Linked DNA regions of Homo sapiens: all the other regions are linked to region 1. The links come from fine-mapping of genetic effects on gene expression. A gene starts in region 1. Each other region holds a variant in brackets. All regions are shown on one strand. Distances are between the middles of the regions.

Region 1 (8,188 bases):
CCTCGAGGGAGCTGTTGGCGCTTCTCCAGAAGCCTCCTCGGCTCCCAGCTCCAGCCCCTAAAATAAAAGCACCTTGCCAGAGAGCGGGGGAGGGGAGCAGCTGAACGAGGAGAATGAAAATACTGGGAGAACGACCCCATTCTCCAGGAAAAGGTAATGAGGGGAAGTGAAACAGTGTGAACTTACTCGGAAATGCAAACCGAGTTCAACTCACCCAGGAGCAAACAAACGACAGCAAGACAAATCAGCCACCGCACTCGCGGCTTCCCAGAAAGGGCCTCATGAATGAGAATGGGTTGCTAGGTTTCCTTCCCTCTCTCCTGACAATCGCTTCCCACAAGACTTCCACCGCCGAAAGAATACAGGCCGGGCCTGGTGACTGCGGAGTGAGGGAACCGCGCCAGGCCCACGAGGCCGCTCGCGACCGCTCCCGCCTTCAGGACCCTGGAGAGCGGCCGCCGCGCCCCTGGGACCCACGCCCAACCCAGAACACCCGCGCTCGCCTCCCGCGCCTCACCACCCCAGCACTTTATTCGCTGCTTCCCGCCTCCACCTTCATTTTTTTTGGCAACCACCGCTCTTGTTTTTCACAGACAGATTAAATTGTTTTTTGTTTGGCATGAGGGGGTGTTTGGATTGGCCGAGCTACATTCCGGTTTGTAACTACACTAAACGTTAGTGTACCAAGAAACTAAGAGCGTCTCAAAGATGACAGTCTGAACGTGGCAGGTGACCTTAAAAAGCCACTGAGTTCAACCCCTTTATAAATGAACTCAAAAAATAAAGAGACATTCCCAAGGTTAGCCATTAAGTTAGTGGCAAGGTTGAGTGTAGAACCGTGGGTTTCTGACTTCTAAACTAGTGCTTCCCTCCACTTTCCAAAAGAAAAAAAATATCTCATTGCTTAGGTCTCCTAAGCAACAAGTGGAAGGTGGAAAGGCCGGTGTTCCCGGGAATAAGAAGGACACATGGAGTTTGGAAAGGAGGTCTGCAGAGGGTTCACTTGTAGTAGCAGCCCTAACATGGAATCCCGGTGTCCCCAGCTCCACGCAACATACCTACAGCCGCACTGGCCAGTCCCTTTTTCCAACCAGCCTGTGGAGGGTCTGAGGCCCTTCAGCCACCTTCAGCCACTATCTGGACCTTCCATAGACAACAATCCCAATAGAATCTAGTAGCCAAGGCCAACTCTGTGCCTCTGGCAGGCAGAGCCCTGGGCACTTAGGGAGATGGGAAAGGGCAGGGGGAACAAGGGAAGACCAGAGAAGGGAGGGGAAGAGCAACAGTTACAAAAGTGAACTAAGATTTTCATCCAAATTCTGAAGAACCAGGCGATGTGAACACAGACCCTTCTGCATACCGCATGTCACATTCAGCGCGCATGGTAGTCCCCTGGGAATGTTACCATGCAGATTCCGATGCATTGGCTGGGTGGGGCTCAAGAGTCTTTATTTCTAACAAGCTCCTAGGTGTTGGCGAAGCTGCTGGCCTACGGACCACACTTCAAGTAGCACGGAGTTAGGAAATACAGGAGTGGGAGGGGAAAGAATCTAACTATAGGCCTTTCCTTCTGCTTTCACCGACCTTCTCTTGCACCCCCAAAGTAACGCTTCAAAATTCTGTAGTAAAGAGCCCCATCTAAGCGGCCGGACACCACAGTAACCGTATGCTGGTTTTGTTTCTCTCTCCCCACCCCAGTCCTTCCCGCCTGCACAGCTCCCAGACTCGCCCGCCGCCCCGAAGCTGTTCGGCCTCCTTTCTAGCCCGCTTTCCAGCCTCGCAAGGTTCTTCTCTCACCTTCTCCGGCGACCCCCTCCCGAGGCTCCCCGGAGGCGCCTGGACTTCTCCCCCCTGCTTCCCGCCCTGCCGGCCGCCCGGCTCTCGAGGGGGCACGAGGAGCTGCCGGGCCGCCTCTCGCTCCTGCTCGGGGCGGCGCTGGCACTGCCCGGCCGACCCTCGGGGGGTCGTCCGCTGAGGCCCCCCCATCCGGTAGCCAAGCCCAGGGAAGAAGACGCCACCGCTGGGCAGAGCTCGCCTATGCCGGTGAGTACCGTGGTCTCCACTACGCCCCACACCCAGCCTCCCCAGGACACCAGCCTCTCCCGATTCTTCCTAACCCCAACTGACCCGCTCCGCTGGGGCTAGCAGTAGGGAGGGTGGCAAGGTCGGGAAGGCCGGGACGTGGCTGGGCAAGTCCTAGGACGGGACATTGGCGGCTCCCGGGACACCGCCCCTCCCCGCGGGAAGACACTCCAAGCTACTTTTTCCTGGGCCATTTCCTTTCCATGGTCCAAGAAAACGGGAGGGAGCCCTCGCTCTTCCCCGAGGCTGCCTTTCAAACTCTCAGCGTGTCGCTCTCCTCCGCCTACTCCGAGCCTCCCCCAAACGCGCCTCCGCCTGCTCCCAGCGCTCGCTCTCCCACTCCCCTGCCCTCTCGGCAGGCAAGGGAGGAAATGACGTGATGTTATTTTTGTGTCAGGTCAGTTTCCAGCTTCAGCTTAGCCCTCCGGGCTCCAGGGAACTAACCCCGCGGCCCCACCGGGTCCCACTCCCGAAGGGACGCTGCGGGCTACGGGGACACGCGGTGCTGCGAGTCCGGAGAGCTGGGCGGCTGGGTTCCCCCTCCCGCTGCCCCCTGGTCTACTCCTTTCCCCGGACTCCGGAGTCCCTGGAGAAGGGGACGCGGAGGGCGACTGCCGAGGGTCTCAGCGGGATCTGGAGTCAGGGGTTAGTTCCCCCCCTTATCCCCCGCTCGGTTGCTGGGTGGGGCCTCCGCGCTCTGGCTAGCTGGGAGGGGGCGAGGGCCGCTTTCCAGGGCGGGAAGACCGGAGGCCTAGGCTGCGCCGGGGTGGGGCGGGGACAGAGCTCAGAGAGGCGCCCCGGGCCGGGGAGAAGGTAGGGGGCTGCCCTCCAGAGACGCGCAGTCCACAGACGCGAAGCTCTGGGGACCAAGCGCCCCCTCCATGCCTGCCGCCCACCCCCGCTCCTTCCTCCCGCTCCCTTCATTCACGAGGTCCGAGCACGCAGTCCAGCACACTCTAGTCTCGCTCGGCCCCGCGCGCCGAGGGGAGGCGATGACACAGAGGGCTTCGCGGACGCCCTCTACGCGCGCCTGGCTTCGCATCCACACTCTTGGGACTTGCTAATGCGGGGCTGGAGCAGTGGGGCTGCGGCCGGGGTGGAGGTCGCGCCCCGCGTGGGGCCTCGGGGGTACCCCTAGCACCCGCGGCGGTGGAGTGCGCCGCCGCTGGAGGGAGGCGAGACGTGGGATTGCCCGGCCGGGTAAAAGGAGTGAGGGGGCGGGGAGGAGGCAGAGCAAGGGGAGGAAGAGGCCGGGAGAAGAGGGCTAGAGCAAAGACCGAGAGCCGGAGAAAGGCGAAAGGCGCGGTGAGCAATCGCCGACGTAGAGAGGGCAGCCCTCCGCGCTGCAATATTGAGAAGGCACCCGCGGGACGCATGCGCACGGCGGACGGAGGCGAGCCGGCCGGGGCTTCCTCCCCGGCCGGCAGGGTGGACGGTGGGCTCGTGAGTATCCCAGTTCCTCGAACTCTCTTTCTTCGTCTCGGGCTCGCCCTGAGGCTTCGTGCTGGAAAGTGGCCGAGGCTGGGAGGGGCGCGCCGCTCGTCCGGACCTCAGGGTGTCGCCGTTGCTGCGGGGCGGGAGCCGGTGCGAGTCGGGGGTTCCTTCCCGCAGTGCGAGTTTGGGGGAGTGGGGCTGCGAGTGCGTCCGCGTGCGAAGAGGGGCATCGCGCCACCAGGATCAATATGTCCCGGGCCTGCCAGGGCGTCCGCGATTCCACCTCTGCGGCTTCGCGTCGGTGTCTTGGTGGGGAACGCGGGAGTCTAGTCTTTAGACCCTAGAAATCGCATTGACCACCCGAAGCGTATTTCGGAAAGACCAGGCGGGTGGAAGCGTCGGCTTTCTCACGGGATAGGGAGAGGACAAGGAAGGGGTTGGGCGCCCGGGGCTGGTGGTTTGAGCGCCGCTGGGAAGGGTAAGGAGACAGAGCCTCCTGGAATCGTAGCGCCTCCTTTTAGGAGAAGTGCAACCAGGGCAGGGGCACCGAGGGGCAGGGTGAGGAAGTGGACGCCCCACGCGTGGACCCTAGAAGACCGACTAGGTATGGGCGTTCACTCGGAGCCTCTGTTCACGCTCTTGAAAACCGAATGAACAGAGAAGTGCCCTCCACCCTTCGCCTGCGCCAGGGCAGTTAACGTGCAGGCGCCGCCGGGATTTTCCTGGAACAAACCCGGGCACTTGATCTTCCGCACCCTCGGAGCTGCCCTGGGAAGTCGAAACAAGTCTGGGCGCCCGGACTGCGGAGACTGGAAAGCAGGGGGCGGAGGGCGGGAGACTGGGGGCGGGAAGTGGAGGTGCAGGCTGCAGCTGGGGACCGCGGTGGGCGTTGGAGGGGAGGGTCTGTGTGCGCGGCTGTCCTCCAGCGCTGGGGGAGCGGACGGGCCAGGGGCCTCTAGGGAAGCGGCGCTCCGGGACCGGGGTGGCTTTCCCGTCTCTGTGTGCGCGGCGATCCCCACACCCAGCTCGGGCGGAGGAGCCCTGAGAGAAGCGGCTAGCTGAGAGTGGGGTGGGCGTTTTGGGGAAAGGTTTGCGTGCGCTGCGGCCCTACCGCTGCTAGAGAAGTGGAAGAGAGAGAGTGGGCGCCGGGAGGGGGTCTATAGGCGCCGCGACCTACCCCATCTCCCTCCACGCTTGTGGGGGAGTGAGTGGGGAAGGGGCTTTGGGAGAGGCGGCGCGCGGGCACTGAGGTGCATCGTGAGCTTCCCGGACTTGACAGCATCAAAGGAAAATCCTGGCGAGCAGCCAGGGCCAGCGAGCGACCCCAGCAGCAGGGACGCGGCCGTGCGAGAGCTCGCGGACAGGCGAGGGGGATCCCAGGGGAGCAGCTGCTGCCCACGGGCCACGGGCGATGCACGGAGTGGAGAAGTGAACGTGGTCTACAGGATTTCTGTCCGGAAGGTGGAGAGCGCTACAGGGGAATCTCCTCGATTCCTGTCCGTCTCGTAACTTGGCAAAAGCTCGCGCCACTGCCCTCCGGCCTGGGCGACAGAGCAAGACTCCGTCTCAAAAAAAAAAAAAAAAAATGGCAAAAGCCTATCGCTCTTTGTCGAACTCCCCACGTTCCCCAGTCACCTGGCTGGGGTTCGTTGGTGTCAAAACCCCAGCCTTGGTGCCCTCGGTGCCAGCAGGACCCTCGCCCACTGGCTAGCGGAATTAGGCACCTGCACGCGGGCTCCTCATTGCCCCGGAGTGTGGGGAGGAAGGGGCTTCTGCATCAGTCTCCAGCCACCCTCCTTGGGACACAAGTGGCAGGGCCCTGGCGTGGCTTGGCTTCATTTCATCCCTAGTGGCTCCAAACCGTGGAATTGACTAAACAAATGTTCAAATTCGCAAAACGGTCTGACTTCCGCCCCAAACTTGACAAGGACATTTCTAGTGAAATTACTCTATCTGTAAGTTTTTTGGCACAACCATAGTTTGCAATTTACTATTTTTGTTAAAATATTTTTTCTCCAAACCTAATTTTTTTGGGGGTCTCATCCTGTTTATCTTCTGTTCGTTAAGTGACATCTTTCTTTCTTTTTTTTTTTTCTTTGAGACTGAGTTTCGCTCTTGTGGCCCAGGCTGGAGTGCAATGGCGCGATCTCGGCTCACTGCAACCTCCGCCTCCTGGGTTCAAGAGATTTTCCTGCCTCAGCCTCCCAAGTAGCTGGGGCTGGGATTACAGGCATGCGCCACCACTCCCGGCTAATTTTTTGTATTTTTAGTGGAGACGGGGTTTCTCCATGTTGGTCAGGCTGGTCTTGAACTCCCGGCCTCAGGTGATCCGCCTGCCTCCGCCTCCCAAAGTTCTGGGATTACAGGAGTGAGCCACTGCGCCTGGCCATAAGTGACATCTTTCTTATCACGTATTAGTAACGCATATGAGAGGCAGTGTTGCCAAACCAGTGGGAGTCTTGAGCTCTGTAACTGGGTTCAGATCCCAACCTAACTGCATAAACTTGGACTAGTTACTTATCCTCTCTGGGCGTTAGTTTCATCATCTGTGAAATGGGGGTAATAAGAGCACCTACCTCGGCAGCTCAGCAGAGCACGGTGGCTCACTCCTGTAATCTCAGCACTTTGGGAGGCCGAGGCAGGTGGATCACGTGAGGTCAGGAGTTCTAGGCCAGCCTGGCCAACATGGTGAAACCCCATCTCTACTAAAAATACAAAAAATTAGCCGGGTGTGGTTGCTGGCGCCTGTAATCCCAGTTACTCTGGGGGCTGAGGCAGGAGAATTGCTTGAACTCAGGAGGCAGAGGTTGCAGTGAGCCGAGATGGAGCCACTGCACTCCAGCCTGGGCAACAAGAGCAAAACTCCGTCTCAAAAAAAAAAAAAGAGTATCTACCTAATGTGCTAGCTGACAGCATTCAGTAAATTAATAACATAGAGCTCTTATAACGGGATGGCACATACCAAGCAAAAGCTGTTATTACTATTATTATATTGATGCTAAATTGGCTAGACTTCAAACTATAAATAAGATCAGTAACAGAATGCATATTTTTGTATACTATAAAGAGTATGCATAATGAAACACATGTCCATCATCCAAATTAGAAAAACAGTCTTTTTTTTTTTTTTTTTTTTTTGATGCTGGGTCTCACTCTCTCACCCAGGCTGGAGTGCAGTGGCACGACTGAGGCCCACTGCACCCTTGAACTCCCAGATTCAAAGGATCCTCCCACCTCAGCCTCAGGAGTAGCTGAGACTTAAGGTGCCTGCCACCGCACCTGGCTAATTTTTTAATTTTTTATAGAGACAGGATCTCGCTGTGTTGCCAGGGCTGATGAACAGCCAGTTTAAGAGAATCTGAAAATGTACCTTAGGAGCTTGAAGTGCTAACTTGTCTGAGATCACTGTAAACGTTTTAGCTGAAACACCCCTTATATCAAAAATACAGAATGATGAAAATCAGGTTACTTATTCTACCTCCTTCGTTTTACAGATGAGGAAACATTCAGAGAGGTTAAGGGTCTGGGCCAGAGATCTCCAGCTAATTAGGGGCCAAAATAGAATGAAGACTTCTGACTCATTCCCCAGGGCTCTTACACACCACACTGCTGATTTCCTGTTTACTACGGATTAATGAACTGTTAACAGATAGAAAGTATAAATAAGGAAAAAGTGTACGAGCATGTGCTATCTCTAGCACCAAGAAGGACCAGGCAGTCATGTCGTGGCTACTGTTGTCCCACAGCTTTATCTTGGTCCCTCACATTATAAGACATGACCACATGACTCGCCTCAGGTAAGGTAAGGTCACAGATCAAGCTATTGTCAGAGCCAGCATTAGCATTTTAGGCCCCACTTGGGTATACATTTGATTGCATATTCTATTAATCTCCTGTAGCAGTTTTAGAAATCATTTTTGAGCTTTTCTTGAATTCTTAAAATATCCTTCCAGCTGGCTTTGAAGGTCTTTCCTATAAGAAAGCCTTTTAGAAAACGCCTTCAAAATTACACAGAAGGAGATTTTATTATTCTAGATTTTATGGACTAGCGAGAGTAAAAGAGAAAAGCTTTCTTATTTTAATGCAGTAGCCTGTAACTGGTTTCATTCCAGGCATTAAGTATTAATTCCTGAAATCCTGCTGTTCTTTTATTTCCGCATGTGGGCATCTAACCACATTCACCTTCCATGGACAGATGCAGATAGTGGCTTAAAGGTCCAGCCCTCACATCCACAGTTTAAGAATTATACAGCAGAGGCCGGGCGCGGTGGCTCACGCCTGTAATCCCAGCACTTTGGGAGGCCGAGGCGGGTGGATCACGAGGTCAGGACATCGAGACCATCCTGGCTAATGCGGTGAAACCCCGTCTCTACTAAAAAATACAAAAAATTAGCTGGGCGTATTAGCGGGCGTCTGTAGTACCAGCTACTCGGGAGGCTGAAGCAGGAGAATGGCATGAACCTGGGAGGCGGGGCTTGCAGTGACCCGAGATTGCGCCACTGCACTCCAGTCTGGGCGACAGAGGGAGACTCCGTCTCAAAAAAAAAAATGAATTATACGGCAGAGACTTTCTAGTGAACATCTGGTCTTACAAAGTTATTTATAGGGATGGTGTGTCTTCCAGGGGAGGTACTTCTAGGAATTATGCCTGCATCCTTGAAAAAGGAAACCG
Region 2 (8,176 bases), 750 kb after region 1:
GCCTGGCAGTAATATGATTCATGGTACACTTCAGGAAGCTGACTCTTTGGATAAACTGTATGCTCTTTGTGGTCAACATTGCCCAATACTAACTGTTATTATCCAACCCATGAATGAGGAAGACCGAGGATTTGCATATCGCAAAGAATCTGATATTGAAAATTTCTTGGGTTTTTATTTATGGATGAAAATACACCCATATTTACTTCAGACAGACAAAAATGTGTTCAGGGAAGAGAACAATAAAGCAAGTATGAGACAAAATCTTATTGATAATGCCATTGGTGATATATTTGATCAGTTTTATTTCAGTAACACATTTGACTTGATGGGTAAAAGAAGAAAACAAAAAAGAATTAACTTCTTGGGGTTAGAGGAAGAAGGTAATTTAAAGAAATTTCAACCAGATTTGAAGGAAAGGTTTTGTATGAATTTCTTGCACACATCATTGTTAGTTGTGGGTAATGTGGATTCAAATACACAAGACCTCAGCGGTCAGACAAATGAAATCTTTAAAGCAGTCGATGAGAATAACAACTTATTAAATAACAGATTCCAGGGCTCAAGAACAAATCTCAACCAAGTAGTAAGAGAAAATATCAACTGTCATTACTTCTTTGAAATGCTTGGTCAAGCTTGCCTCTTAGATATTTGCCAAGTTGAGACCTCCTTAAATATTAGCAACAGAAATATTTTAGAACTTTGTATGTTTGAGGGTGAAAATCTTTTCATTTGGGAAGAGGAAGACATATTAAATTTAACTGATCTTGAAAGCAGTAGAGAACAAGAAGATTTATAATTTCAATATCAGCACACTCATTCTTTGTCAATTCATTTTTTCCCATGAGATGAAGCACATGTGACGAATACGGACTAGATAACCTCTAAGAATTTTCCACTTCTTCAAAATGAACTTACTCTAGAAAGCTTACCCTTGGATAACCAGTTTGACTTTCATAATGTCTCTGTTTTTTGTTTTTCCAACAATTACAGACTCAGGTTCTCTTATTTTGGAAGTTTCTATCTGGTTTTGTTCTGAACTTACATTTTTTTTTTTTTTGGTATCTATGATTTTTTTTGCTCAGGGCATCAAAATGTGCTAAGGACAAGAATTATATCCTTTTTAAAAAATGTTGTTAGCTTGGTGTAAAATGTATATTGACTGTATTGGTGAATAAATTGAATAGACATAACCTCAAAGTACTTCACTTATTCTTTTTAACTACTGATTTGATAAAAAGTATGATTATAAGATATCCACGACAATCTCATAGTTTCTTGTGCCAAATATGTTGAGTCCAGTTCCTCAGAATATCCAGTGAAATTGCAAGCATTTCCATGGGACAGGATTTAGTGTTTTTCTAATAGACTAGACTATCAAGTATCAATTGGTTTGAATAATTGTGGTGTATTTCCCAGGAGTTAACCAGGAAAGCTTTTAAGAGTCCTTCCACTGCATGACTATATGATGATATAGAAACAAGTCTTAGGAAACTTGGAAATCTATGCCTCTTGTCTACAACTAACTCAAATTAGAATGATCAGTATTTTTGGAGCCACACATGGAGATGCTAAAATAACATAAATTTGGCATTGAGGAACAAAAGGTAATTAAATTAATTACATCAAGAATAATGTTGGTGTCAGTTCAGCATGAGTCATAAATTCATAAAAATTATGAATTGCTACTTCATCAGCTGGAGACTACTTCTATGTAGAGTATGCTTTTTAAAAAAACATTAAGTGATGCTTTCTTTTAGTGAAAATATGGAAGCTATAATGTTATGTAAGTTTCTGTAGTAAGCAATGAGAAATTGTAGTGAATGAAAGGGCACAAAGTTTTGGAGAAAAAATAGAAAGGAGAAAATAATTTACATTAATTTTGTGCCTACTGTGTACCAGGGACTGTGGTACACCTGCAGGCTTTTTGTGTGTAATTCTTCCTCATAAAAGCACTGTGAATGTGGCTTTATTACTTCCCCTGCATTTTTTTTTTTTTTAAGTAGAGAAGTTAGGAGCAAAAGGTAAAGGACTTTCATGACTGGTTTACAGTAGGGTATCATGCCAGGATTTGAACCCAGTTCTTTGTGCTTGAAAATCAATGCTCTTTTTACTACTTTTTTTTTTTTAAAGCTGATTCTCAGTATGTTTCACAGGCTGGTTTTGAACTCCTGGGCTCAAATGATCCTCCATCCTCAGCTTCTCAAGTAGGTGGGACTGCAGGCACACGCCACTGCGCTGGGCATCCTACATTTTTATCATTGTTTTCATGTGAGGAAGAAGGGATAAGATTTTTTTTTTTTTGAGACAGAGTTTCGCTCTTGTTGCCCAGGCTGGAGTGCAATGGTGCGATCTCGGCTCACCGCAACCCCTGCCTCCTGGGTTCAGGTGATTCTCCTGCCTCAGCCTCCCAAGTAGCTGGGATTACAGGCATGCACCACCACACCTGGCTAATTTTTGTATTTTTAGTAGAGACGGGGTTTCTCCATGTTGGTTAGGCTGTTCTTGAACTTCCGACCTCAGGTGATCCGCCCGCCTCGGCCTCCCAAAGTGCTGGGATTACAGGTGTGAGCCACCGCGCCCAGCCAGGGATAAGATATTTAAAAAAAAATTACCACTCATTCTCTAGTGCAGGGAGACAAGGAAAGAATTTTTCTTTTTAATTTGGAAGGTGTGAAATATAGATATACCCAAGAAGATTGAGGAAATCATTTATAAAAACCAGGAGGTTTCAAGAAATATGGCATGCAGTATGTAGTTTTTGGCAATACTATTACACCAAACAGTGTCCTTCATGCATCATAATTGGGAGAAGCTGGAGTGACAACCATGAATTAGTAATGCATGGGACTGTGTAACATACTTCTTCTTTAAACATACTTCTTTAAAGTGAACGTGTTCACATGCATTGAATTCTGAGATCTTGGGCCACATCTTATTCACAGAGCTAGCTTCGTACTTGGTACATGGTAAGTACCTAATAAATGTGTGTTAAATGGATAAGAAGTGCATTTGAAGGCATTTAATTTTTCTTTACCTCTTACTAATTTCAGATCCATACATGTAGAAGGATGTGCAAATATGCTGAAGGATAGAACTCAGTTTTTTGTATTTTTTTTAGTTTTTTTATATTTTACGAAAGCA[G/A]TATTTTAGTTATCCTTAAAATGTCTGTAAAGATGATTTTTTCTTTTAAGCATTCAAAGCATGTTTTTAGTTTTGCAAGATTTATATTTAAAAAATCTTGTCACACTGTGAAATTTAGAAGAGTAAGTGAAACTTTAGAGGAAATTTAAGGATATTATAGAGAGCTAGCTTTTGCTTTAGAGATGAAGTACCTGAAGGGCTGAGTATGGAAGTGTAGCCTCCCTTACTCAGGGGAAGATATGTAGAATTCAGTCTCTGGTCCCAAGGTGGAGTGGTGAAATTATTGTGTTTTGCCCACCAGATGGCAGCTGTGCTATGCGCTGCCAAAAGTTCAGGCACTCTGAGAGGCTTGCATGGATAAAGGCAATGCTTTAAGCATTGGGGCAGTCTCTGAGCTTCCTGCTTCTGCTTCAAAGAAAGCTGAATGCCCAACTGTGCAGGCATCCCCCAAATATTAAACCCGGAAGAAGCAGCAGTGTTCAGAATTAAAATAAATATACTATTAGTATATTTAGTAGCAAGGAGCAGAAGTTCAAAAGTAGAGGCACTCAAAAATGCCAGCTGTCAAGAATCATCAGAGTTGATTCCAAGGAAAGCCCAATTTGGGGACTATGGGACCCAACAAAATTCCCTAATTCAAGCTGAAACTAAGTTAATGAGCTATTGGTTCAGTGGATAGGGGTAATTTTTACATGACACTTTCAAATATTATAATGTAACTTTTCAGTGGCACAAAACATGCCTCATTTTTCAGAGTGTAAACTGAGGTATTGAAACTACATTCCATATTTGTGGCACTCATTAAAGTTCTTATGAAGAGCTACCTTATAAGGTGGTTGTGAGAGGATCACTAGAGAAAATACTTGTAAAACTCTTAGCACAGAGTTTGGCACACAGTGTTAAACATGTTTTAGCTATTTTTCTTTAAAAAGCCATTAGTGTGAATACGTTTGATACACTTTTCAAAGTTGGTGTTCTTCTGACCAAGATGTATTTTAGCTTTATTTTGTGCCTCTCTCTCTCTCTCTCTCTCTCTCTCTATATATATATATATATATATATGAAATGTAATATTTTCAACATTTAGTCATATAGCCCTTCACAAAAGTGAAGGTGACAAACAGTTTGAGCCCCTGCTCTGTGCCAAATATTGGGCTAAGTTCTTTATGTGTATTATCTTAGTCCTCACGAGAACCCTCTCGATGGGTAACAGTACCTTTAATGTAGCAGGAAGGGGACTAAAACTCACAGAGGCTAGTAAAGAAGCACTTTTACTTTAATATCTGTATTCGATTCTCATAAAAAGTCCTGAGTTTTGTGGTTTGATACTCTATGTACAGATCTACCCTGAAAACAAAATGACTTTCTATTCCCTGTTTATTGAGGTTAAGAAGGATTCCATTACTGCCCAGGGTTCTTTTAATCCAAAGTACTTACCATTTTTCCTACTATTCTACGCTCTTGTCCATTAAGGTATTAAAGGATAATTGTTTTTAAAAGCAAAATCATGAATTCCATATAGATATAACATGACCATGTGCCAAAGATTGTATTTAACTTACAAATTACATAGGGAATTATTAACATATACAATGGGCTGAAGGAAGAATTTAAAGTATCACTAAAAATAAGCAATAAGAAATGCTGAAATGAATTTGGGTCTGTCCAGGACAAAAATTACATTCCCTGGACACCACCAATTTATATTTCTATGGACAAGAATAGTTTGCATTATCTGTGTTTTTACAATTTGCAGGATTATCAGATAATTTAAAGATAATGAAAAAACAGAGATAACCCCAAGAGGGCTTGATAAGGCACTTAGTAATTTCTTTTTTGTCCATTTCAAGGTATTTCACAGTTTTTTTCCTAAAAGGGTTTATCTTCCAGTAACTTAAGTGCTAAGTTATTAAGGGACTATTCCCAAGTCATGGCAAAGAATGTATGACCAAAAAGCTTTTGAAAATTAAGCAACAAAACAGCAAACCTTCAAACAGAGACAAGTACTATGTTTGATGGTTTAGAGAAGATACGTTCATCTTGTTCTAGACAAAAATTAGTAAACAATTCCCATCATGGACTTTAGATGTAATATACAATGGGCTGGGCGCAGTGGCTCACACCTGTAATCCCAGCACTTTGGGAGGCCAAGGTGGGCGGATCACGAGGTCAAGAGATCGAGACCATCCTGGCGAACACGTTGAAACTCCATCTCTACTAAAAATACAAAAAAATTAGCCAGGTTTGGTGGTGGGCACCTGTAGTCCCAGCTACTCGGGAGGCTGAGGCAGGAGAATGGCATGAACCCAGGAGGCGGAGCTTGCAGTGAGCCGAGATGGTGCCACTGCACTCCAGCCTGGGCAACAGAGCGAGACTCCATCTCAAAAAAAAAAAAAAAGATGTAATATACAATGATTATTTTTTTATCAATGGGAATTCTTTCTAAAGGATATACACATGAGCCTTTTCTCTATGCATAGATATTTCATATATTAATGTTTACTTTTTGATTCATACACAGATTATCATAACAATCAGTAACAGCAAGAACAAAAAACAAAGGTCAATGGAGTAGAAATCATTTAGCTGCTTTTCATCTTGAGAATAGTTCTTTTCTTCTGTAACACTAATGTTGATAAATGGCTGCAGTCTACAGACTACTACTTACGTAAGACTGCTTAAAGCTCAGGTGAATCAATACAACCAAGTAAATTAAGATAGGATGGTAGGTTCATGGGAAAACATGACTTGTACATCACAGGAATTCATTATATTGAGAGTGAAAGTGGTTAGTGAGAAATGGGTGATACAAAGCTAAACACTATATTTATGTTCATATATATGAATATTCATATATATATTTATAAGTTTATTTAATGTAGTTGCTGCCTCAGCATCCATTTTTAGGATTGACATAATATTTGAAATTTAGTCCTACTTTGTCACCTTTGGCTTAGTTAAAAGCTTACTTTCCCGTGTAGTTGTTTGCCGTATGGCTTATTTGTTCCTCACTTCTTTGACCCAAAACCCAACACACCCCACAGCTATTGAACGTGATAAAATGTAACGGTCAACACCAGAGTCACATAAATAGGTTCACCCCTTCAGGAGGGAAGAGGGGAACTTATTTCTTTAAATTAGCCCATCTACAACCCCCACAAGAAAGCCTAAGGGATAATGTCCACAGAGCTTAATAAAGGCATACACAGTCCCAGAGATTTCCCCGTCCCTCTCTCCCAAAAGTTCTGTCTCACAACCTCCCTCCTTCCCTTTCTCCCTCTTCCTCTCCTCCCCACTGACCCCTTGCTGATTGAGCTCCCTGCTGCCTCTTTCTGTTGGCACCCCTAACCTTTCTGGGAACTGTGAATAATAAACACTTATGTTTTGCGCATTTCCATTTCACTTCATTGTGTCTCATTTGGCATAGATGCTCTTAACGTAGCCTTCTTTTTGGTCAGAGCTATCTTAGAGAGTGGCTGTCTTGACAGGAATAATCTGGATACAGGTCAGGCAAGACCCACAAGGGTGTCTGCCTGAAAAAACAGTTTGTTGTGAGAGGGACACCTAGTCATGGGTCAGACACTTAGGCAATAGGCATCCTTCAGGATAAAGAGGCATCCCATGGAAGGCGCACTGTCAACATCCACAACAAAATCCTTTGAATTTCTGGCAAGGGCAAGGCTGGAGCTTATGGCCACTCTCAAGAAAAACCTCAAGACCAAATTAGAAAGAAACCATCATAAAAATCACAACAGTTGGCTGTGCATGGTGGCTCACGCCTGTAATCCCAGCACTTTGGGAGGCCAAGGCAGGTGGATCACCTGAGGTCAGGAGTTCAAGACCAGCCTGGCCAACATGGTGAAACCCGTTCTTTACTAAAAATATAAAAATTAGCTGGGCCTGGTCGTGGGCGCCTGTAATCCTAGCTACTCGGGAGGCTGAGGCAGGAGAGTCTCTTGAACCCGGTAGGTGGAGGTAGCAGTGAGCTGAGATTACGCCACTGTACCCCAGCCTGGGCGGCAAGAGCAAAACTCCCTCTCAAAAAACAAAAACAAAAAACACACTTGCATACATATGTATCCCATTTATTCTCATGGATGTGGTATAGAGAATCCAAAAGAATAATTTCATGTCATTTAAATGACATTGGAGTTTGTTTTAGACATATATTTCAATATAGGTCTGTTAGTGGAAATTCTCAGTCAAAAAGACATTATATGAAGAATAACTAGGACCAAGAGAAAGTTCTCTAGATTTGTTATTTTATGCCTTTGCTTACTTTCTCCCTGTTCACCTATTAGTTTGCACCAGTCTGCACAATGGGCTCTGTCCTGTCACCCTTCCAGGAGGCATGGTGTAGCATAGCATTATGGAGATTGTCTGGTGCTCTTCCTTCAGCAGGTTGATGTTGAGGTTAGCCTTGTATGCCCTGTTCGGTATCCTGCTAGGAACTTGTGGACCTCATCTGGATCAACAGATAGAGTCTCATGAAATATCTGGTTGTCATGAAATGTCAAAGTATGTAGAGTGCTATGTAATAGCTCGATAGGACTGATTGAACTCCTGGGTGGTCCTGAGTGGGTTAGGAAAGGGGTCCACAGTGAGTGCCTAGCTGGACAAGTCTCTGCATACAGCTGACCACCTAGGCATTAAGAGCCAGAACCACACAGTAGACCTGCACTGGCAGGCTATCCAGCATAGAAGTTTTACTTTTTCAATGGTGAACTCTTCCATTTGCATTTTTATTTCTTATCAAAGTTATACATTTATAACTAGTTTTAATCAGAAGTGCATAGCTCAAAATAAAAAATAGACCACTTTCTGACCCTGTACATGCCTAATTCCCACTCCAGAGGCATCTTTCTTGAAAATATTTAGCTGTTTTTCTGCTGTTTATTTCTGTATTTAGAGACATACTGCTTTTTTTTTCAATTTTAGATTTTGTGTATTGACATTTCACCTTCAGCCTCCCACTTCATATCTCTGCCAATATAATTTTTTTTATTAAATTACAGGGCTTTCATTAATAACC
Region 3 (8,188 bases), 64 kb after region 1:
TAAAAGTGACATCAGCAAAGGAGAAAATGAACTATTCAGTAAATAGCAGGATACTTGGTATTTGGGTACCAACTCATCCCCACTGATAGGACTTTCTCAGTTTTAGCACTGAAAGGTCCCATAGCCCAGAAAACCTGAAAACCCTAGGCAAACCAGGAAAATTGGTCATCCTGCTTGGTATCCAAATATATAAAAATGTATTTATATTCCTACATAGCACCATATACAAAAATCAATTCCCACCTTAAAAAAAAGATCAGCTGGGTGCGGTGGCTCACGCCTGTAATCCCAGCACTTTGGGAGGCCGAGGCCGGCAGATCACATGAGGTCGGGAGTTCGAGACCAGCCCTACCAACATGGAGAAAACTCGTTTCTACTAAAAATACAAAATTAGTCAGGCATGGGGGCACATGCCCATAATCCCAGCTACTCAGGAGGCTGAGGCAGGAGAATCGCTTGAACCTGGGAGGCAGAGGTTTCGGTGAGCCGAGATTGCACCATTGCACTTCAGCCTGGGCAACAAGAGCAAAACTCCATCTCAAAAAAATAAATAAATAAAAAATAAAACACAAAAATTAGCCAGGCATGGTGGCGCACACCTGTAGTCCCAGCTACTCAGGAGGCTGAGGTGGGAGGATCGCTTGAGCCCAGGGAGGTTGAGGCTGCAGTGAATGATGATTGTGCCATTGCACTCCAGTGTGTGTAACAGAGTGAGACTCTGTCTGAAAAACAAAAACAAAAAAAAAAGAAAAGAAAAACCTATACCCTGGAAAAACTTCTCACACCCCTGCAAAAAAAGGAGACATGTATGAGAAGATTCACTACAGCATTCATCTGAGTGAGAAAAATTTAAAATGGTTCTAAAGGGTATAGACAGGAGAATGGATGAATATATTGTGGTATAGTTATACAATCCACTACCATACAGCACTTAAATTCATATACTAGAAAAACAAAACTAAACAAATAAATAAGTTAGGCGTGGTGGCTTATGCCTGTAATCCCAGCACTTTGGGAGGCCAAGGCAGAAGGATTGTTTGAGCCCAGGAGTTCGAGACCAGCTGGGGCAACACAGCGAGACCATGTCTCCACTAAAAAAAAAAAAAAAAAAAGTTAGCCCGGCATGGTGGCATGTGCCTGTAGTCCCAGCTACTCTAGAAGCTGAGGTGGAAGGATCACTTGAACCCAGGAGTTCAAGGCTGCAGTGAGCTATGATCATGCTACTGCACTCCAGCCTGGGCAACAGAGTGAGACCTTGTCTCAGAAATAAATAAATTCATATGCTAGAGGGAAAAAAAATTATAAAGCAATACATGTTACATAATTACATTTATACTATGTTTAAAAATATGTTTATGAATATAATATAGTAGCATAATTATGAATTGGAATGGTAAACAGTAAGTTAAAAATGGTGGCTCTCTCTAGGGTAAAGAGAGGAAGAAATGAGATGGGGAAAAGTACACAGCAAACTTCAACTGTTTTAATAGTGAATTTCCTTGTTTTTTTTCACCACACTTTTGAGATTTATCCATATTAATATACATAGTCAAGTCAATTTTCAAGAAAAGTAAATGGCAATTTCTTTTCTAAGTACTTGTGAATCTTTCTCAACATTTTGCTGTAAGGCCTTCTGGTATTTAGTGTTATAAGGGAAGGCATGCTGATTCTTGTTCAGTTGAATATAAAGTTTTTTTCCTTTCTAGTAAGTTTTCTCTTTATCACTCAAAATTTTACCAAAATATATCTGGCCATGGGTCTTCTTTTACTGAAACTTCCTAAAACACAGCGAGCAACTATCTTGGCTACTATAGACATCTTCTAGGTCTGCTGTAACAATAACAGTGGACCGAGGTAAAGAAAACTTCACAAAAAAAAATTCTTCTCTTTTTCAAAACCACATTGTCTCTTTAAAACATTCTTACTTGAAATGAGGGAAAAAGTATATCAAAGCTGAAATAAGTTTGCATTATTTAGTTTGCAGTACAGCTTCTGGTTCTCTGAGGAACTCCTGTCAAATTCATCTCTTTTTTCCTCTGCTTTTTCATACCCACTGAGCAGTAATGTGTTTTGCTTACAAAAGAAGCCTCGGAAGTCATGCAGAGAGCGTACCACTCAGATGCCTCTCAAGTTTTTTTTGGTTGGATTTTTTTTTAAAGAAGCCATTATTTACTGAAACTATTTAGCCCTGACATCATGAAAGAAAGAAGTCAAAAGGGTTCCTGCATTTCTAATGATTTTGCCTTTAAAGAAAAATAGAGCTACACACACACACACACACACACACACACTGAAAATTTATAAAACAGTTGTGCTAAAAACAGGCTGAAAAACTTTTATAAAATAGTGTTAAGAAAAGATATAATAAAGAATATAGAAAATACAGTAGCAACAAGATAAAGAAAACCCAAATTGTCAGTGATAAAATCCATTTTCATGTTGATGGGATGCTGAAAGCATTCCTGCAAAAATCATGAATAAGGCAAAATGTCCACAATCTCTACTACTATTTAACAATGTATTTGGCCAGGCGCGATGGCTCACGCCTGTAATCCCAACACTTTGGGAGGCCGAGGCGGGCAGATCACAAGGTCAGCAATTCAAGACCAGCAGGACCAACATAGTGAAACCCCGTCTCTACTAAAAATACAAAAATTAGCTGGGTGTGGTGGTGCGCGCCTGTAGTCCCAGCTACTCAGGAGGCTGAGGGAGGAGAATCACTTAAACCCGGGAGGCGGAGGTTGTAGGGAGCTGAGATCACGCCATTGCACTCCAGCCTGGGAGACAGAGCAAGACCCCGTCTCAAAAAAAAAAAAAAAGTATTTTAGGTGTTAGCTAATTAGACAAGAAAATTAGAGGCCTGAGAATTGGAAATAGGTAAAATTCTTCCTATTTGCAGATGAAACCCGAAGAGAATTATAGCTATAACTGATACAAATACAGAAGAATTCAGAAATAAGAAGGATATAAAATTATCATTAAAATAATACTCTGTAGGCTTCAGGTCTTAAAATGAAGAACACTTCCATTTCAATAATAAAATGCAAATAAATCAATTTAGAAATGGTCAAAACATCTGAACACACATCTCTCCAAAGATGTACAAATAGCTAGTAAATGCATGAAAAGATGTTCCACATCAGTAGTCATTAGCAAGATGCAAATCAAAACCACAATGAAATACCACTTCTCACCCACTTATGAAGCTAGAATAAAAAAGACAACAGTAACTGTTGGCAAGGACATGGAGAAATTGGATCCCTCAAATATTACCATGTGAAATGGTGCAATTGCCTTGTAAAACAGTTTGGGAGTTCCTCAAAATGTTAAAACTCAAGTTACCATATGACTCAGCAGTTCTACTCCGAGGTTTCTACTTGAGAGAAACACAAATATATGTTCGCAC[G/A]TACTTGCACAGGAATGTGCATAGCAGCATGATTCATGCAGCCAAAATGTGGAAACAACCCGAATGTCTATCTGCTGATGAATGGACAAACGAAATGTGATGTGTCTATCCAAACAATGAGATATTATTCAACTGGAAAAAGAAATGAAGTGCCGATACATGCTACGGCATGGGCTAAGTGCAAAAACATTACGCCAAGTGAAAGGAGACAGCCAGCAAAGATCACATACGGTATGCTCCACAACAGGCAAATCTATAGAGACAGGAAGCGGATTCGTGCTTGCCTAGGGCCGGTAGAGTGGGGAGATACAGGTGATAAGCAGTGACTGCTTACTGGTGGGGTTTCTTTTGGGGGTGATGACAATGTTCTGGAATTAGATAGTAGGGATGGTTGCACAACTTTGTGAGTATACTAAAAACCACTGAATTGTACACTTTAAACAGATAAACTTGACGGCATATGAATGATAGCTCAATAAAGTGATTAAGAAAGTGGCCGGGCACGGTGGCTCATGCCTGTAATCCCAGCACTTTGGGAGGTCCAGGTGGGTGGATCACTTGAGGTTAGGAGTTTGAAACCAGCCTGGCCAACATGGTGAAACCAAATACAAAAAGTAGCCGGGCGTGTTGGCACATGCCTGTAGTCCCAGCTACTCAGGAGACTGAGGCACAAGAATCGCTTGGTTGCAGTGAGCTGAGATTGCGCCACAGCACTGCAGCCTGGGCAGCAGAGCAAGACTTGGTCTCCAAAAAAAAAAAAATAGCATTCATATTACAACAATAACCAGTTACAAGATGAGATAAAAGTACAAATTCCATTTACGATAACAACAAAAATACTTGGAATAAGTTTACAGACAAATGTACAGAATGTGTATAAGAAAACAAACTCTTTAGAGAAATACAATAGATTTTGATTATGCACTTTATTTTTCTCTACTACTTTTGTATATTTGCCTATAAATATATGAAGCCTCCATTTTGACTGGAAACAAAGCCTAGAGGATGTATACTTTTTAAGATGCAGAAAATGAAATGAAACCCCAATACATTCCTGACAGTCTTACTTTTTTACTATTTTCATTTTTTTAATTTTTGTATTAAATAGAGACAGGGTCTCGCTATGATGCCCAGGCTGGTCTTAAACTCCTGGCCTCAAGTGATCCTCCTGCCTTGGCCTCCCAAAGTGCTGGGGTTACAGGCATGAGCCACCGCGCCGAACCCTTTTTTACTATTTTCTAATGAATGTTTTTATTTAAAAAATCATTATTCTAAGTATAATTGAACACAATAATTTCTAACTCTTTCTCAATAGTAGAAACCACAACGTTTATTTATATTTCTAGTACCTTATTGTCACACTTTTGGTTTGCTTGGGAAAACTAACTGGGGTCATTTTTTTTTCCAAGTAGAGGAAGAAATTCTATTAATACTTGGGGATCTGAAGTTCTCTTTAAAGTATTTGTAAAAAATCTTTTCTTGGCAGGGACTGAGCTGTCAACATGTGAATGTCTTTTTTTTGCAGTCTCACTGTTAGAAACCAGGAAGATCAGAGGCCCACAATAGCTTCCCACGAACTCAGAGCAGATCTTCCAACCTGGGAAGAAAGGTGAAATCACACGTTTTTTTTACCTCACTAAACTAACAGAAATACTAACCTCTTTCTTTTCTTTGCCTTGTATGTTTCAACAGAACACATACTTTCTCTAACTGTAATTTAGTAATATCCAATCATTATGTGGCCTCGCATTCCTCCCCTGCAGAATTCCATTTAATTCATCGTGTGACAGGGAGAGAAATCAGTTCCATTATTAGTCTAATCCCTTTGCTAATTGCAAATACAAATAGATTCTTCCTAACAAAACATATTATGTTATTTTATTTTTATATAATATACTTTTAAAAATAAAAGTATATCATATAATTTTATATAAGATATAGCATATATATTTATATATACTATATATAAAATACAGCATATATACTTATATATGCTATATATATGATATAGTATATATATTTATACACTCTATATAAGATATAGCATATTTATACACGCTATATAAGATATAGCATATTTATTTATACATGCTATATAAGATATAGCATATTTATTTATACATGCTATATAAGATATAGCATATATATTTATACATGCTATATAAGATATAGTATATATATTATATATGCTATATATAAGATAGTATATATATTATATATGCTATATATAAGATATAGTATATTTATATATGCTATATATAAGATATAGTACATTTATATATGCTATATATGATATAGTATATACATTTATATATGCTATATATAAGATATAGTATATACATTTATATATGCTATATAGGATATAGTATATACATTTATATATGCTATATAGGATATAGTATATACATTTATATATGCTATATAGGATATAGTATATACATTTATATATGCTATATATAGGATATAGTACATACATTTATATATGCTATATATAGGATATAGTACATACATTTATATATGCTATATATAGGATATAGTACATACATTTATATATGCTATATATAGGATATAGTACATACATTTATATATGCTATATATAGGATATAGTACATACATTTATATATGCTATATATAGGATATAGTATATACATTTATATATGCTATATATAGGATATAGTATATACATTTATATATGCTATATATAGGATATAGTATATACATTTATATATGCTATATATAAGATGTAGTATATATATGCTATATATATGATATAGTATATATATTTACATATGCTATATATATAAGATATAGTATATATATTTACATATGCTATATATAAGATAGTATATATATTTATATATGCTATATATATGATAGTATATATACTATATATAAGTATATATGCTATATGTAGGATATAGTATATATATTTATATATGCTATATATAAGATGTAGTATATATATGCTATATATAAGATGTAGTATATATATGCTATATATATGATATAGTATATATATTTATATATGCTATATATATGATATAGTATATATATTTACATATGCTATATATAAGATAGTATATATATTTATATATGCTATATATATGATAGTATATATACTATATGTAAGTTATAGTATATATATTTATATATACGATATATGATACAGTATATATACATATGCTATATATAAGACAGTATATATTTATATATGCTATATATAAGACACAGTATATATTTATATATGCTATATATAAGATACAGTATATATTTACATATGCTATATATAAGATACAGTATATATTTACATATGCTATATATGATACAGTATATATTTACATATGCTATATATGATACAGTATATATTTACATATGCTATATATGATACAGTATATATTTACATATGCTATATATGATACAGTACATATTTACATATGCTATATATGATACAGTACATATTTACATATGCTATATATGATACAGTACATATTTACATATGCTATATATAAGATACAGTACATATTTACATATGCTATATAAGATACAGTACATATTTACATATGCTATATAAGATACAGTACATATTTACATATGCTATATAAGATACAGTACATATTTACATATGCTATATAAGATACAGTACATATTTACATATGCTATATAAGATACAGTACATATTTACATATGCTATATAAGATACAGTACATATTTACATATGCTATATAAGATACAGTACATATTTACATATGCTATATAAGATACAGTACATATTTACATATGCTATATAAGATACAGTACATATTTACATATGCTATATAAGATACAGTACATATTTACATATGCTATATAAGATACAGTATATATTTATATATGCTATATAAGATACAGTATATATTTATATATGCTATATAAGATACAGTATATATTTATATATGCTATATAAGATACAGTATATATTTATATATGCTATATAAGATACAGTATATATTTATATATGCTATATAAGATACAGTATATATTTATATATGCTATATAAGATACAGTATATATTTATATATGCTATATAAGATACAGTATATATTTATATATACTATATATAAGATACAGTATATATTTATATATACTATATATAAGATACAGTATATATTTATATATACTATATATAAGATACAGTATATATATTTATTGGTCATTTACAAAAACTTGGATTTAAACATTTGAAAATATATATCCTTCTCAAGCAAACATGAAACAGTTATATTTTAAAAATAAAAGTATATTATATAATATACGGTGGGTGGGCACGGTGGCTCACACCTGTAATCCCAGCACTTTGGAAGGTCAAAGCATGCGGATCACCTGAGGTCAGGAGTTTGAGACCAGCCTGGCTGACATGGTGAAACCCCTTTTCTATTAAAATACAAAAATTAGCGGGGCGTGGTGGCAAACGCCTGTAATCCCAGCTGTTTGGAAGGTTGAGGCAGGGAGAATTGCTTGAACACTGGAGGCAGAGGTTGCAGTGAGCCAAGATTGCACCACTGCACCCCAGCCTAGGAGACAGAGCAAGACTCTGCCTCAATCAATCAATCAATCAATAAAGGGAGAGGGAGAAAGAAAAAGCTATAGATGCTTGCCAAAAATTTAATGGTATATAAGTAAAGAAAGTGGTCTAACCTCTAAGAGAGTAAACACTGTTAACACATTTCTTTTTTTTTTTTGAGATGGAGTCTAGCTCTGTCACCCAGGCTGGAGTACAGTGGTGCAATCTTGACTCACTGCAAC

Which allele goes with the higher level. Alleles are on the strand shown, and positions count from the first base shown. SD is a standard deviation of normalised expression in the study named.
With allele G in place of A in region 2, the expression in cerebellar hemisphere of the gene that starts at base 3,313 in region 1 is higher (moderate effect, 0.59 SD a copy in GTEx).
As copies of A replace G in region 3, the expression in fibroblasts of the gene that starts at base 3,313 in region 1 goes down (small effect, 0.31 SD a copy in GTEx).

What was found.
Region 2: its variant is fine-mapped to the expression of RGS20 in cerebellar hemisphere (GTEx, PIP 0.98).
Region 3: its variant is fine-mapped to the expression of RGS20 in fibroblasts (GTEx, PIP above 0.99).

The regions. Positions count from the first base shown.
Region 1 is chr8:53,877,560-53,885,747 of GRCh38, forward strand. It overlaps RGS20 (regulator of G protein signaling 20), which reads left to right and starts at 3,313. Exons shown (of 5, transcript NM_003702.5): 1 at 3,313-3,525. The coding sequence starts at 3,457. RefSeq lists enhancers at 2,270-2,564, 3,212-3,843, 3,844-4,475, 4,753-4,822, 6,956-7,005 and silencers at 2,753-2,892, 2,973-3,022, 3,153-3,262.
Region 2 is chr8:54,629,555-54,637,730 of GRCh38, forward strand. RP1 (RP1 axonemal microtubule associated) reads left to right here. Exons shown (of 4, transcript NM_006269.2): 4 at 1-1,280. The coding sequence ends at 799. Among named protein-coding and RNA genes, the nearest start is that of RP1, 18 kb to the left of the region's middle. RefSeq lists an enhancer at 1-404. The variant G/A (reference allele first, on the strand shown) is at 3,145.
Region 3 is chr8:53,941,734-53,949,921 of GRCh38, forward strand. RGS20 (regulator of G protein signaling 20) reads left to right here. Exons shown (of 5, transcript NM_003702.5): 3 at 4,932-5,015. Among named protein-coding and RNA genes, the nearest start is that of RGS20, 65 kb to the left of the region's middle. RefSeq lists enhancers at 2,676-3,875, 3,336-3,630, 3,461-3,510, 3,521-3,660 and a silencer at 3,336-3,630. The variant G/A (reference allele first, on the strand shown) is at 3,407.